2 separate regions of the Homo sapiens genome follow, and region 1 is linked to region 2. The links come from fine-mapping of genetic effects on gene expression. Tissue or cell type: subcutaneous fat. Region 2 holds a variant in brackets; the other region holds the start of a gene. All regions are shown on one strand. Distances are between the middles of the regions.

Region 1 (8,147 bases), 150 kb before region 2:
CCACCACGCCCGGCTAGTTTTTGTATCTTTAGTAGAGACAGGGTTTCGCCATGTTGGCCAGGTTGGTCTCGAACTCCTGAACTCAGGTAATCTGTCCATCTCGGCCTCCCACAGTGTTGGGATTACAGGCGTGAGCCACCGTGCTTGGCCCCAAAGGTATTTTTTTTGAATTCAGTGCAAACTTATTCTGACCAGATGTTAATAGTCTTTATCCCACTTCATGTTAACACTCTTTGTTTCACTGCAAAATATTAGTGCATTTGATTTAACACCTCTGCAGGGGGAGTGGGGGTGCTTACTTAATAATTAATATACAGTATATGCACTGTATCGTTTCTAAAGTTTCGATTCCAAATTTTATTATTGAGACGGGGTCTTGCTGCTGTGTCACTCAGGCTGGCATGCAGTGGCGCGATCATAGCTTACTAAAGCTAAAACTTTGCAGGCCCAAACCATCCTCCCACCTCAGCCTCCTGAGTAGCTGGGACCACAGGTGTGTGCCACCACAACCAGCTAATTTTTGTATTTTTTCTATTAGTTTCGCCATGTTTCCCTGGTTGGTCTCGAATTCCTGAGCTCAAGCATTCCAGAGTACCTCCCAAAGTGCTGGGATTATAGGCAAGAGCCACTGCGTCCAGCCAGTTCCAAAGTTTAGAATTTCTTTTCTAAAAATCTTTTCTAAAAGTTTTAAATTCTGAAACATCTGGCTGCCAGGGTTTTAGATAAGAGATTGTGGACCAAAAATCAAGATGTTTTGAAAAGTGCTTTTCTCTGTTCTCTCCTTGTGTTACCCCCAGGTCATGTAGGAAAATGGGAAATTATGCTGGACTTAATGCCAAAAAAGCTAGATTCTTTGCTTCCCCCATTTACTTTGTTGTTGTTAGTTGAGACAGGATCTCACTGGAGTACAGTGGCATGATCTTGGCTCACTGCAGCCTTGACTCCCTGGCTTCGGTAATTCTCCCACCTCAGCCTCCCAAATAGTTGGGACTACAGGCGCCTGGCTAATTTTTCTATTTTTTGTAGAGACAAGAGTTTTGCCATGTTGCCCAGGCTAGTCTCAAACTCCTGGGCTCAAGCGATTCACCTGCCTCGGCCTCCCACATTTGTATTTTTCAAAGTATACTCTTAAGCTCAGATGAATTCAAGTTTTTGCAGCCAGAAACTGGTAGAACTGGTGTTTGAAATCTTTCATTTTCCAGTGCTTAAACTCTTCATCATTGTAAGATACTTCTTGTGTGGGTCTTTTTTGTGGAAACCACACTTGGAGATTTCTACTCCTTAACCCCAAGCCTCTTTATGACATCCATCCAGGACCAGCTCTGCTTTCCTGTTGAAGGTCTCAAGAGACTTGCCTTCCTCCTCTCGGTAGCTGCCAGTACTCTTACCATTTCATGAGTTTTCCCCCAAGCTTGGCTGTGAAATGTGATACCTATTAGCTTCCGCAGCACCTTTCTCCCAACTTCCTTGCTATACCTGATGACAACTCTTCAGGCCTCTTATATTCCTAGGATCTTGCTATTAATCACTATAGGGATAAGTAAAAGTAATATATACAAAATAATTGCATAACAGAATAATATAGGGCAGTTACATAGAATGATTCTTGCTGTTTAATCCTGGAAAATGTGATCCCCGAGGATTCACATTTTAATTTCTGCTCTTTATTTCTGAGGATGGAGTCACCGTTTTCCCCTTCTGGCTACACATTTAGATGCATTTCAGGTCTGATGATAGTTGCAATGTAAAAAAGAATAGCAAGGCCTTTGGTTTCTGTAGACAATTTGGACCAGATAACTTCCAGACTGGGTAATATCCGGTTTATTAGTGTTACTGGATGGGAAGTCTTGACTGAGTTGTCTGGGTTTTTGGCGTGTTGAACAAAGAATTGAACAAAACGTAGAAACAAAGCAACAAAAGAAGCAACGAAAGACAAAACAACAAAAGAACGAAGTAACAAAAGCACAAATTTATTGAAGCGAACCAAGTGCTTCAAGAGTCCCAATTGCAGTGTTCTTAAGGGTTACTAGGCTAAAAGAATTTGGTAAATCCCTAGGTGCCCTTTACAGTCGTCCAATTGGTTGCACCCTATGAAGGATTGGCCTGCGACCAATCAGAGGCTGAAATGGAGATGGCCGAGGACAATCAGAGGCGATGTGGAAACTTCTGTCTTGTAATCACAGGAGTGAAGGTGTGGCCTGTATGCTGCCTAGTCTTGCCTAGAAATTGCTGCACCTGCTGTTCTTTTGCTTATGCCTTAACCCTTGGTTACCCTAATTCCCTATTCTCTTGCCTCATTAGGTCTTTACCCTGACTAAAAATGCACTCATCTAGCTGGGACAAATCCTACACTGCATTTGTCCCATCTAGATGAGTATTCTAGCAGAGTACATGGCACATGAGTAGGCATTCAAAAATTCAACATACAGTACATTTTGTTACCTATGTGCCAGGTGTCGGGCAGGCTGAGTTAACAGCTGAACAGAAACCTACCTACCCAACGTGCTAACTTCTATACAGCATGGTCGTGCATCCAAATCAAATGGAAAGCGGTATGGGAGATCTGGAAAGGCCTCCTGTGGGTGGCATCTGACTACCTAAATTCCCATCCCAGTTTCACTTACTGACTTTGACACTTGGAACAAGCAGCCTCTCAGTGCCTGTTTTCCCACTGGCAGGTAAATGGGCTAATGACGGTATTTCTGGCACTAGACTTCGTTAATTAATGAAAAGCACATAGAAGAAAACAGCCTGGCTCTCTAAGTGGGCAGTGCGATTCCCAAGGACGGCACTTCGCCTGATAGTCTTCCTCTAGGCTGAGAAGCCAGAGTAAATCCATTTGATTTTCCTACCACACAGTGCCTTCTCCCCAGATGAGTTCAAAGCTTTAAGTCTATCCAGTTCTGTCCAGACGCGTCTGTTCATCTCCAACAGGCCCACTAGAGAGGCGGGTTTTCCAAAGCCTGGCACGGCCCACTGCAGGTGACGCCCTCTGCCCTCCAGCGCCCTCAGGCCTCTGGGGTCCACCCTTCCTCCCCACCCGACTCCGGAACCTCTTCCCGCGCCCTGCCCGGGCGCCTGGCTGCTTGGGGTAGAGGCCTTCCGCCACACGCGCGGCCCCGCCCCGGCCTTCACGTGACCTGGCGTGCGGAGCGCGCACGCGGGAACCCGCGCTGGAGGCGGGCGAGGGCCGAGGGGCAGCTAGGGAGCGCGGCTTGAGGAGGGCGGGGCCGCCCCGCAGGCCCGCCAGTGTCCTCAGCTGCCTCCGCGCGCCAAAGTCAAACCCCGACACCCGCCGGCGGGCCGGTGAGCTCACTAGCTGACCCGGCAGGTCAGGATCTGGCTTAGCGGCGCCGCGAGCTCCAGTGCGCGCACCCGTGGCCGCCTCCCAGCCCTCTTTGCCGGACGAGCTCTGGGCCGCCACAAGACTAAGGAATGGCCACCCCGCCCAAGAGAAGCTGCCCGTCTTTCTCAGCCAGCTCTGAGGGGACCCGCATCAAGAAAATCTCCATCGAAGGGAACATCGGTAAGGAGCCTCCGGAAATGTGGGACGCAAGGCTGGGGTGTCGCGGCAGTGGCTGAAGCTTCCCTTCGCCGCATCTCTCTGCAGCAACTCGGTGAGGGCTTTCCCTCCAGCCTGGCGGTGTGGACGCGGCCTCGGCTTCCTTTCCCACCCAGAGCATCCTTCCCTTACCTCCCGCTCCACGGGGTGACTGCGGTCCCCGGGGTCAGACTGGGCGCCAGGCCTGCGGTCTCTGTGAGGCGCGCTTTGAACCTCTGCTCCCTCTTTGTTGGGAACTCGCAAAGGGAAGCGGGGGAAGGGTATTAGATTTCTTGAGGTGTAACTTACATTAAATTCACCCTTTTTAGGTGTACTCTTCTATGAGGTTTGACAAACATTATGCCTTTTGCTATCACCATGATCGAGATACAGAACATTTTCATCACCTTAGAAAGTTCCTACCTGCTCCTTTGTATTCAGCCCCCTCCACCCTTCCTATTCCCTGGCACCCACTGATTTGATTTCTATCCCTGCAAGTGTTGCCTTTTCCAGAATGCCATATAAATGGAATCATAGGCTATATCGCCTTTTGTGTCTGGCGTCTTTCATTTAGCATAATGCTTTTGAAATTCATTCATGTTACTTGTGTCTGTAGTTTGTTTCTTTTTATTGCTGAGTAGTATTCCATTGCATGGATGTACCATCGTTTATCCATTTTCTAGTTGTGGACCTCAGGGTTGTTTACAGTTTTTTAGCTATATTATTAGCGAAGCATTGTTTTAGCTATATTATTAACGAAACTCGAAACATTCGAGTACAAGCAAAGAGGTCTTTAATGATCTTAATAGCATGGAGTTCCTCACCCCTTACTCCACATCCAAGTAAACATTGGATTATGATTCAAAGACCACTAACGTTTCTGTTAACTCAGATGGGGGGCAGACTAGGCCATGCCTGTCACTTTGCAAGATACACACCAACGTCCGATTCTTCTGTATCTCCAACCACAGGAAACCTACCCCTGAAACTTCCTGTTTTGATAGATTTAAAAAAAAATTTTTTTAGCTCCAGGTTGGGTGCTGGTCATTCATGCATACAGCAAATTTTTTAAAATTCTTACCACATTCAAAGCACTGTACCTTCTTGAAAAAGGCCAGGCAAGCAGATGCTTTAAGCATTCAAATGAATAGAAAAACTGCATTCTCAAAGAGGACTTCTTATTTCATTGCTCCAGAATTAAAGCACCAGTAGAAAGACCATATGATATAATTAGCAATGTAAGTTATTTGAGGGTGCATGTTTACTAGTATGGAATCTCTGACAGCTGCTTACTGAATAAAGAAGACCATATATAAAGACAGGAGAAAGTGGCTGAACAAAGCCATCTGAAAAGTAAATTTGAGGCAGGGCATGGAGGCTCATACTTGTAATCCCAGGATTTGGGGAGGCTTAGGCAAGAGGATCACTTGAGTCCAGGAGTTCCAGATCAGCCTGGGCAACATAGTGAGAACTCATCTCCACAAAAAAATTAAAAAATTAGTTGCATGTGTTGGTGTGCCTCCAGCTACTCAGGAGGCTGAGGCAGGAGGATTGCTTGAGCCCAAAGATCAAGGCCACAGTGAGCCATGATCACACTACTGCACTCTAGCCTGGGTGACAGAGCAAGACTCTGTTAAAAACACAGAAACAAAACAGTAAAGTTGAATGAATAACCCCTCGGATCAATACCACAATACATTCATCCCCTTTCCCTCTCTCCAATCCAGTTAGGTAGCATCATATTTAGAAATATTTCCTCAAAGCATCTTTAATCTTTTCAGCAGCTGAAATAATTTCCTAATATATCATCCCATCTCCAGTTTCTCTTAACTACTTCTGCAACGGTCTTTTTGTATGCAAATGTCATGTGTTATCCCCTGCTTAAAATTCTTCACTGATTTTGCCTTTACCTACACTGAAAGTAGTTGTGAACTGATAGCCTGCAATTGCACAATATTGGCCTGCACAGGTTGAAAAAAAATTTTACTGGCCAGTGGCTCAAGCTTGTAATCCCAGTGCTTTGGGAGGCTGAGGCAGGAGGATTGCTTGAGGCCAGGAGTTTGAGACTAGCATGGCAACATAGTGAGAACTAGTCTCTAAGAAAAATAAAAATAAAATTAGGCCAGGCACAGTGGATCACGCCTGTAGCTCCAACTACTCAGGCGGCTGATGCTGATGTGGGAGGATCACTTGAATGTGGGAGGCAGAAGTTGCAGTGAGCTGAGATGGCACCACTGCACCCCAGCCTGGGTGACAGAGTCTCAAAAAAAAAAAAAAAGCCAGTTGTGTTAGCATGCACGTTTAGTCCTAGCTACTCAGGAGGCTGAGGTGGAGATCTTTGAGACCTATAGTTTGAGGCTGCCGTGAGCTGTGGTTGTGCCACTGCCCTACAGCCTGGGCTACAGAGTGAGACCCTGTGTCTAAAGAAAAAAAAATTAAATTTGTTGCTAACTCGAAAACGTTTTGAGATTTCCCATAAACAATTAGATTCTTGGCTTCTTTTGAAAAATCTGAAGATCTGTTAACACCGGGCCTGCATTTCTGTATGACAACAATTGGTGTTTAGATGGAGCATGTTCCTTGCCATTTTTCGTCTCCCTGACACTGAGACTTTGTTAGTTACTGTTCATTATTGGTCTTGCACTTTTGTTCATGTCTCCTTCACCTTATTTGCCAGATCCAAATAAGCTGTAAATGCACAAATTGTTAAGCTGTGCGTAAACTATTTTGCAATTCCTCTATTTTTCCTAGAATTTGAACTTTACTTGGTCGTTTTAGTTTTATATTTATATAACCCATCTTCTTATGTTCTGTGTTACTCAAATGTTCCCTTATGTTAGATTGATGGAGGACTTACCTGCTTCTCATCTTAATAGTCTGTTCAGAATGACTTTCAGCATTATAATGCCTGCTTGGCATTAGGAATTCTGTTAGTTTCCATGACTTTTTAAAGTATTAACATCAGTGTCTTTGGTTCTTGTTCTCCTTTGCCTTCATAGAAAATTAATTTATTAATTAGCTTATTTTCTAGCTCCCACTTTGCCCCAATAAGTTAAGGAACTAGATGTGTTAGTGTGATTGGGAACTCTAGCTGTTATTACTCTGCTTGAACTAAATGTAACTGTTATTACTCTTAGACTTTTTAAGTATGACCATATGAATTTTTCTGCTTGTAAGCAGTGTCAGAAGAAAGTTGAATGCTGTAGCCTTAAGTGCTTTCAGACTCTGGTGGATGCCTAATTTTTTTATTTGTTCCTTGGGTGCTATTTCTGAACATCATGTTCTCCTTTCCCTCTTCCATCTAGCTCAGTGAATGTGGGGTGTTCTTTCTATATGCTTTCACTTCCACTTAACATTCTTCTAAATGCTGTACAGTCCCTAAGCTTACACTCTCCATACTAAATTTTGGTGGCCAGTGTTTTTACCATGATTAAATCTCACTGTTATCCAGTTTATCGTTAAAAGTTTTTCTCCTCTCCTCTGGATACAGTTTACTTTGTGTTTTTCTTCTAAACTGTCTACCTGTGTCACCTTCTTTACTGCCTCGCTCCTGTTTTTTCTCTGTGTGTAATTCTTTAAAGTTCTTCCAGGTTTTTCTTCTTTTCTATTGCCCTGTCTAATGTCCTAGATTTAAATATAGTTCTGCAAGTCAAAGGTAAGTTCTTTCTACTCCCCATGGATCTAATTTATAAGGAAGAGGAAGCTTTGCTTGTAAGTATATTGAAGTTATTTATATGTTCATCTGTGTGTGTGTGCACGCACACACAGGGAAAGAGAGAGAACATTATGCTAACCAGAGATGTCTAATACAACCACATTTGGTGACTTCAGATATAAAGGGTGTGGTGGCCATTAGGAGTATTACTTCTAGGTCAAGACTGTCCCTACTATTAAATATAATATATTGTTAAACTAAACGTAATAAAAAACAAATGTGCTTAATGAAATTGGGCAGGGAGCCTTTTCATTTTCTTCTAAAGAAATATGAAGAGAAAGTTTAGAAAGTTGAATGTTTTGGGCTTTTTATGTTGCTTGCTATTGTAAATCTTGCAAAAGCTAATGACTACTTGACATCTTTTTTTCCTGACAACTTTTCTTCCTCAATTTTATCTTTCCTCACAACAGCTGCAGGGAAGTCAACATTTGTGAATATCCTTAAACAATTGTGTGAAGATTGGGAAGTGGTTCCTGAACCTGTTGCCAGATGGTGCAATGTTCAAAGTACTCAAGATGAATTTGAGGTATGAAAATAAAATTTAAGTAGATAAAAGCCTCTTGGTTTAGAGGAGCAGTAGTACTTAATCTCTTTTTCTTTTTCTTTTTCAATAAAACTTTCAAATCTCGCTTTAGGTATATATCTTCATCTAGGTGGTGGTTACATGGATATATATACAGTTGGCTCTCCATATCAATGGGTTTCAGATTGATATGGATTCAACCAATCATGAATAGAAAATATTCAGAAAGAAATAATACAAAAAAATACAAATAATAAAGGATTACTGTTCATATAGCATTTACATTGTATTAAGTATTATAAGTAATCTAGAGATGATTTATACTATTTGGGAGGATATATGCAGATACTACACCATTTTACATAAAG
Region 2 (8,000 bases):
TAGCATTCATCTTATCTCAGGGCCTTTAGCTGGGTGCTCTAGGGCTAGGGAACTCAATACTAAACAACATGTCATTGACAAACCAGAGACCAGCAGAACTGGATTCAAGCCTGATGTAGTTACAGAAGAGCCCTCATGCATAGCTGAATGCTTTTCTCACTAATCTTCTATAGGAATGTATGTTTTGAGTTCTCTTGAGAGAGAGCCAGAAGTTCACCTGCCACTTGGAACAGATTTAGAGCAGAGCTAATTTTTGCCCTTTAGTGACCACTGAAGAGTCAGTGTTAGTGCGGGGTTGCCTGTTAACCCCATGTGGTGATGTACAGCATTGTCTGAGGACCCATCTTGGAGGGACCATGTGAGATTCCAAAAAGGACTCAAGACTCAGTTATGGTTTTATAATTTCAAGGATCAGTATACTGTAAGAGTAAGGGTTCTGCTGTCAGACGAACTGATTTGAGATAGCATTTCCCCCATGCATTAACTATGTAACTTTGAGCAAGTTACATAATCTCTTGGATTCTCAGTTTCTCATTAATATACATGTGGTAATAGCAGTACTACCTCAAGGAGTGTTAGGTGGGCTAAATGAGATGATGAGTCTGGCATCCCTCTATAATCCCTGAAATAATAATAACAGCAATAGCATTTTTTTTGGTGCAACTTAGTATAAGGTTGGCACAGTATTAAGCACATTACATGCTTTACATACAAAGAGGCTGTATTACTATCTCCAGGGTAATGTTAGATGAAGAAGCTGAAACTTTTGCCTAAATCCAAGGTCTATGCTCTTACTCTTGACCAAAGAAGAGGTACCTCTGTGTCCTGGTAGTTCTATGCCATAAAACTGGCTACAGGAACTTTTGAGAATATAATATCATGACCAGTCTGGCTCCCTTACCAGTTTGTTCACCAACTTTCCAAGGTGGAGCAGATCTCTATTACTGATAAGATTAGCTCTGCCCCAGACTCCACTGTAATCAAGGAGAAAATAATTAGCTCCAAGCCGAGAGACATCTGCCCGCTGACTCCACTCTGACTCTATATTGAAGTTATGATAGAAGCCCTCATCTTTCACCCCAGTTCTGATAACTGGATCCCTGTCATATTTCCTTTTGTCCCCACACCAAAGTTCCTCAAGAGTCATCCTCCATTGATTGCTAATCCAAGAAACTTCTTGATCACTTATCTATCTAGACATCAGTCTGCCCAGCATTCCTCCTATGGCATGGAAAGTGGTGCTTAGATTCTTAGCCTGAAGTGACTTTTCCATCCATTCATTAATTAATTCATTAAATAATATTTAGTGAACATGACCACTGCATTCCTGATCTCAAGATACAAGGTCCTTTAACCACCCTCTCTTTTAGAACTGTCTCGTTACTTGAACAAACTCTCATTCTAATAGTTCCTAGTTCTGCCACAACTTCATTCTTCCCTTTGCTTTCTGCAAATTTCATGGACAGCCAACAATCTTAGGATAGAAAATTCTCAAGTGGTTGCTGCCTGTCCACCTTGGAAACTTGAGCTCCAAGGGCAGCTCTAATCACTGGTTTCATCACAGAAAAAGAAGTGGAGCTGAATAAAGCAGCTGAGGTTGAAGTCCATTGTGTTAACTCAAGGAAAACGTTTTTTTCGTTTCTCGCTTGTTTTGCTCACAAGTATAAAGACAAAGAACTACTTTAATAGGAAGTTTCAGTCACAAAGAAATTTCACAAAGAAACAAACCCAATACTGTACTTTGGTTGATAAGAGAGGTTTCTAACACACAGAGAAAATGCACTGGGGGCTTCTCTTTTGTTGATATTGTGCCCTAATCAAAATATCTTGTTAGATTTTCAATAAGAATGCTCCATGGCTATATTTGCCAAATTCATTTCTATATTTAACAGTGTCATAGCAGGTCTCTAAAAGATAGATTTCATGCAATATGTTAGTGTGCCCTTGGAATGACAAACCAGGTAGTTAAGTTGATTAATGGAGGATATGTTTATTCACTACTTTGAATAAAACACAGTCAGAGGGGTCAATAAGTGAACTCTTCGTGGAGGCCAGTGTTATCACCTCTATTAATATATTAATACTATCCATTCCTTGCTTGCCTCACTAATCAATTTTTTTTAATATTAGTTTTCAGGCCAGGCTCTTTCTCAAGGCTTGTCCAGGCAAACATGATAAAGCACAGGTTCCAATCAAATGACGATCATGGTTGGTGTAAACTCTCTTGCAACACATTAAGCAGAGCCTATGGGAAAGAACTTGCCTAGCAGGAAAATAAAGGTGCAGCCAAGGACACACCAAGCCTTTCTGTCCTTCTTTTAGGGAAATTCGTGCACTGTTACATCTCACTCGGTTCATATTATCTTCAAGGATCTGTACAGTCAGTGAACAAAGTTCTCTTGAACAAGCTAATTTCAAGGTTCACAGATTATCCAAACACCATTTCTTTTCTGGACTGACTGTATGCTTCCACCTTTATCACAGTGATTCACACTTCCCTGCCAGTGGACGTGAATTCTTTATTTTGCAGGAGGGAAGAAGGCTGGTTGGGTATGTTGGGGGCCAGGTAAAGAATCAGTAAGTTGGCCGGGCGCGGTGGCTCACGCCTGTAATCCCAGCACTTTGGGAGGCCAAGGAGGGCGGATCACGAGGTCAGGAGATTGAGACCATTCTGCCTAACACGGTGAAACCCTGTCTCTACTGAAAATATAAAAAATTAGCCAGGCGTGGTGGTGGGCGCCTGCAGTCCCAGCTACTCAGGAGGCTGAGGCGGGAGAACGGTGTGAACCCGGGAGGCGGAGCTTGCAGTGAGCAGAGATCGTGCCACTGCACTCCAGCCTGGGCGACAGAGTGAGACTCCGTCTCAAAAAAAAAAAAAAAAAAAAAAAAGAATCAGTGAGTCAATAATGCAATAATGGATCCTTCTTTCTCTATTTAACCACAAGGGATCATTCGGTTGGAAGGGTAATGGTGATTAATCAAAGTCATCAAACTAAATTCCCTTTTCTTTGTGTGTGTGTGTGTGTGTGTGTGTGTGTGTGTGTGTGTATTTCTGGCAGCACTGGACCTCACTCCCACTTAGCAACCATTGACTTTTGGTGTGAATTGGCCGCCTCCTGTGGATGAGGCTGAAATCCTCCACTTTTCTACAATCTTCCTGCTTATTGCTGTCCCACTCCTGGTCCTCTTCATCCATTTACAACACCTGCCTTGCCCCACTTCTGGAGACTGTGAGGTTGTTCACCCCTGTTTTCACACTAGAACCCTGGTGAGGTTCTATCAGGCCAAACTCCAACTTTTAGAAGCCTAGAAAGTAAGATGCTCATGTTGGAAATACTTCCGACCCTGTGGGCATCCCTAGCAGTTGATGATAAGCCCTGCCCATGTTCCTGGCGATTTTCAGCATGCCCCAGCCCACATCCATCTGCGAATGTCTCCATCTCTGTACCTGTGGGCATTTTCTTCCAGATTCGTATAGTTTGCTCTGGCCATTCACTTGCTAATCTGCTTCTTTTTTCCTTATTTCAATTTTATTTATTTATTTCACTGATACATAGTATTTGTACATATTTATGGGGTACATGTAATATTTTGTTTCATGCATAGAATGTGTAATGATCAAATCAGGGTTTTTAGGATATCAACCATCTTGAGCATTTATCATTTTTATATGTTGGGAATATTTCAAATTCTCTCTTCTAGCTATTTTGAAATATGCAATACATTGTTGTTAATCATAGTCACCCTATTCTGCTATTTAATATTAGAACTTAATCCTTCTATCTAACTGTATATTTGTACCCATTATACTATCTCTCTTAATCCTCTCTGCTTCTGTTTGGGATGGTCAAGGTGCTTAATTTTCTCTTTCCAGCTTCTCCCTTTTCTTGGATTTTCTAGTGAAGCTATTTTTAAATGGGTTGTTTTGAACACAT[A/G]GCATCCAATGGGAATAAACAAAATCTCTGCTGGCCAGGCATAGTGGCTCACGCTTGTAATCCCGGACCTTTGGGAGACGAAGGTAGGCAGATGGCTTGAGCTCAGGAGTTCAAGACCAGCCTGGGCAACATGGTGAAACCCTGACGCTACAGAAAATACAACAAATTAGCTGGGCATGGTGATGCGCACCTGAAGTCCCAGCTACTCAGGAGGCTGAGGGGGGAGGATTGATTGAGTCCAGGAAGTTGAGGTTGCAGTGAGCCATGATTGTGCCACTGCACTCTAGCCTGAGCGACAAAATGAGACCCTGTTGCAAAAACAAAACAAACAAACAAAACCTCTGCTAATGACTTCCAAATGTATATCTTCAACGGTGACTCTTTTTAATCTCCATACTCATATATTTAATTGCCTTGAATTTCCAGTTGTATTCATCACAGGCATCACAAACACATTATTTTGATTTTTCCTTCCAAAGCTGCTCTGCCCCAACCCCACTCACTGCCCCAGCCTGCCTCATCTCATTAAATTGCACCATTTACACTGCATTAAGTTGCTCAGATCTCAAACCTAGGACTCATTCTTGATTCCTCTCTTATTTCCTTCCTCATCATATGACGATCTGTTGGCTTACTTTCAAAACGTGTGTCAAATATGACCACTTCTCATCACCTCCACTGCTACACCTGTCATTCAAGATACCACCTATCATCTCTCACTAGGATGATTGCAAAGACTCCTAAGCTTCCACTGTTTTTAAAAATTGTAAATTGAAAACTTAGAATTATATACAAAATTTGTGGGATACAAAGTTATGTTATAATTTATGAATATAATGTGGGATAATTAAATTAAGCTAGTTAACATATCCATTACCTCAAATACTTAGCATTTTTTGTGGAGAGAATATTTGAAATTTACTTCCTTAGCAATTGTGAAATGTATGATATTCTATTATTAACTACGTTCATCATACTGAGCAATAGAACTCAAAAAAGAAAAACAAAACATATTCTTTCTGTCTGAGATTTTGTACCCTTTGATTCTCATCTCCCCATCCTCCCCATTCCCCAGCCTCTGTAACCATACTTTTCTTCTATGAGTTCGATTATTTCAGCTTCCACATATAAGTGAAAAATGTAAGCTTTCATTCTTGCCCCACTTTCAGTATGATCTTATAGCCACAGTGATCATGTGACCTGCTTGCTTAAAACCCTTACATCACTTTCTGTTACATACAGAGCCATGTTTACAAGGCCCCTGTGATCTTTTAAGGCTCATTTTCCACTATTCTTTCCCTCATTCATGCTGCTCCAGCTACACTGTCTCAAACATTTCAAGATTTTCCCATCTCAGAAGCTGTGTATTTCTCCTTTTGGGCATGTTCTTCTCTTGGGCATGCTTCTTTTCTTGGTTGTCCTTCCCTCATACCTTTGCCTGGCTTGCTCCCTCTCACTTCACTTGGGTCTCAGCTCAAATGTCTTCACTCTTTCAGAAATGTCTACATAACCACATGGCCATAAATAAATATATTGTAAAAACTTGTTTGTATTTTGTTTTCCCCATGGAAATAAGTCCCAAATTGTCAAGAACCTTGTTTGCCTTGCTTATTAGTATTCCCCAACACTTAGAACAGTGCCTGGAACATATTATGCTTAAAAAATATTGGATGGATGAATCAATTCATTGATATATACTAAAGTGAGAACTAAAGTGAATTGAATTAAATCAGCAAAGCTCTCAAGCTTGGCTTGAATCAATGTTTGGAGAATAGAAGAATGAATAAGGAAGAAGACAATTTCATTAGCTTAGGTAGCTACTTTCTAACCTTTCCCATCTTTTAATTGAAAGGCTGGCCCTACAATATAATAGCACTTACTGATAACTTATTATATCCAAAGCATTAGAGTGGGGAATACAAAATTGCATCAGACCTGATCTCAAACTTTTTGTGTATGTGTGTGTGTATATAATAGAGACAGGTTTAATCAAAGAGGAGTAAGAAAACTTCTGATACAAACTATAGGTACTCACTGCTCTATAATTAGACCTAATTCATAAAAACTTGTAAGATATTTTGCGGTGAGCAGTATAGCTTTAGGACAGAGCTTCTCAATGAGTTTGCTAGTTGCAAGTTTGCCTCATGAGTAGCCGCTTTCTTTTACTAAAACTAACACAAACATATTAAAACTAAAACTAAACACTGCATATAAAAAGAGTGGGAAGCAATGCAGCTTCAGAGGAGAAAGAGTTCTGTTTGGGCGTTGGCTAAAGTAATCTTTCTGGGACCTTATAGGGCTACTTCAGGCATCTATGGCATTCAAACTCAACTATGGCTTTTGCTGCTCCCTGTTTTAGGAGAAAATAGTGCCTCAGTGATGCTACCTTAAATTTCTTACTTTCTTTCTTTTTGTTTGTTTGTTTGAGAAAGGTCTCACTCTGTTACCCAGGCAGGAGAGTGATGTTATCAATGTCAGGTATCCAGTAATGACATAGCCGAGGCTACCTCCTGTCAGAGGAAATTCACCAACCTGAGTCTTCGGCTTTTTGCAGCATCTTTCTGTTGTTCTTGGAGATGCTATCTAGCAGTTGAAAATATAGTAGAGTGAATGCAACTCTCTCCAGCCATTCCAAAGGCACAAACTTTTCTCACTCTTTTTTTTTTTTTTTTTTTTTTTTAGCTTTCTACAGCTTTAATTTGGTTTGGATCCCATGCCCATGACCCTGCCAACTGACAATTCTAGGCATGCGCAAACTGGCCCCAAAAATTCCTCCCACCTTTCCAAAGAACTATTTGGCACTTTATGTGAAGTACCTGGTTTTTCCATTTTCTTTCCTTTTTATTATTATTATTATTATACTTTAAGTTTTAGGGTACATGTGCACAACCTGCAGGTTTGTTACATATGTATACATGTGCCATGTTGGTGTGCTGCACCCAGTAACTCGTCATTTAGCATTAGGTATATCTCCTAACGCCATCTCTCCCCCATCCCCCCACCATGCAACCATCCCCGGTGTGTGATGTTCCCCTTCCTGTGTCCATGTGTTTTCATTGTTCATTTCCCACCTATGAGTGAGAACATGCAGTGTTTGGTTTTTTGTCCTTGTGATAGTTTGCTGAGAGTGATGGTTTCCAGCTTCATCCATGTCCCTACAAAGGACATGAACTCATCATTTTTTATGGCTGCATAGTATTCCATGGTGTATATGTGCCACATTTTCTTAATCCAGTCTATCATTGTTGGACATTTGGGTTGGTTCCAAGTCTTTGCTATTGTGAATAGTGCCGCAGTAGACATACGTGTGCATGTGTCTTTATAGCAGCATGATTTATAATCCTTTGGGTATATACCCAGTAATGGGATTGCTGGGTCAAATGGTATTTCTAATTCTAGATCCCTGAGGAATCACCACACCGACTTCCACAATGGTTGAACTAGTTTACAGTCCCATCAACAGTGTAAAAGTGTTCCCATTTCTCCACATCCTCTCCAGCACCTGTTGTTTCCTGACTTTTTAATGATCGCCATTCTAACTGGTGTGAGATGGTATCTCATTGTGGTTTTGATTTGCATTTCTCTGATGGCCAGTGATGATAGCATTTTACTGTGTCTTTTGGCTGCATAAATGTCTTCTTTTGAGAAGTGTCTGTTCATATCCTTTGTCCACTTTTTGATGGTGTTGTTTGTTTTTTTCTTGTAAATTTGTTTGAGTTCATTGTAGATTCTGGATATTAGCCCTTTGTCAGATGAGTGGGTTGCAAAAATTTTCTCCCATTCTGTAGGTTGCCTGTTCACTCTGATGGTAGTTTCTTTTGCTGTGCAGAAGCTCTTGAGTTTAATTAGATCCCATTTGTCAATGTTGGCTTTTGTTGCCATTGCTTTTGGTGTTTTAGTCATGAAGTCCTTGCCCATGCCTATGTCCTGAATGGTATTGCCTAGGTTTTCTTCCAGGGTTTTTATGGTTTTAGGTCTAACATGTAAGTATTTAATCTATTTTGAATTAATTTTTGTATAAGGTGTAAGAAAGGGATCCAGTTTCAGCTTTCTACATATGGTTAG

The links. PIP is the estimated chance that this variant, and not a neighbour inherited with it, causes the effect.
Region 1: DCK starts here. The variant in region 2 is fine-mapped to the expression of DCK in subcutaneous fat (GTEx, PIP above 0.99).

Annotation. Positions count from the first base shown.
Region 1 is chr4:70,990,401-70,998,547 of GRCh38, forward strand. It overlaps DCK (deoxycytidine kinase), which reads left to right and starts at 3,249. Exons shown (of 7, transcript NM_000788.3): 1 at 3,249-3,526; 2 at 7,667-7,782. The coding sequence starts at 3,436. RefSeq lists a silencer at 2,985-3,324 and an enhancer at 3,495-3,674.
Region 2 is chr4:71,136,171-71,144,170 of GRCh38, forward strand. It overlaps a transcript of SLC4A4 not described here. Among named protein-coding and RNA genes, the nearest start is that of SLC4A4, 47 kb to the right of the region's middle. The variant A/G (reference allele first, on the strand shown) is at 3,936.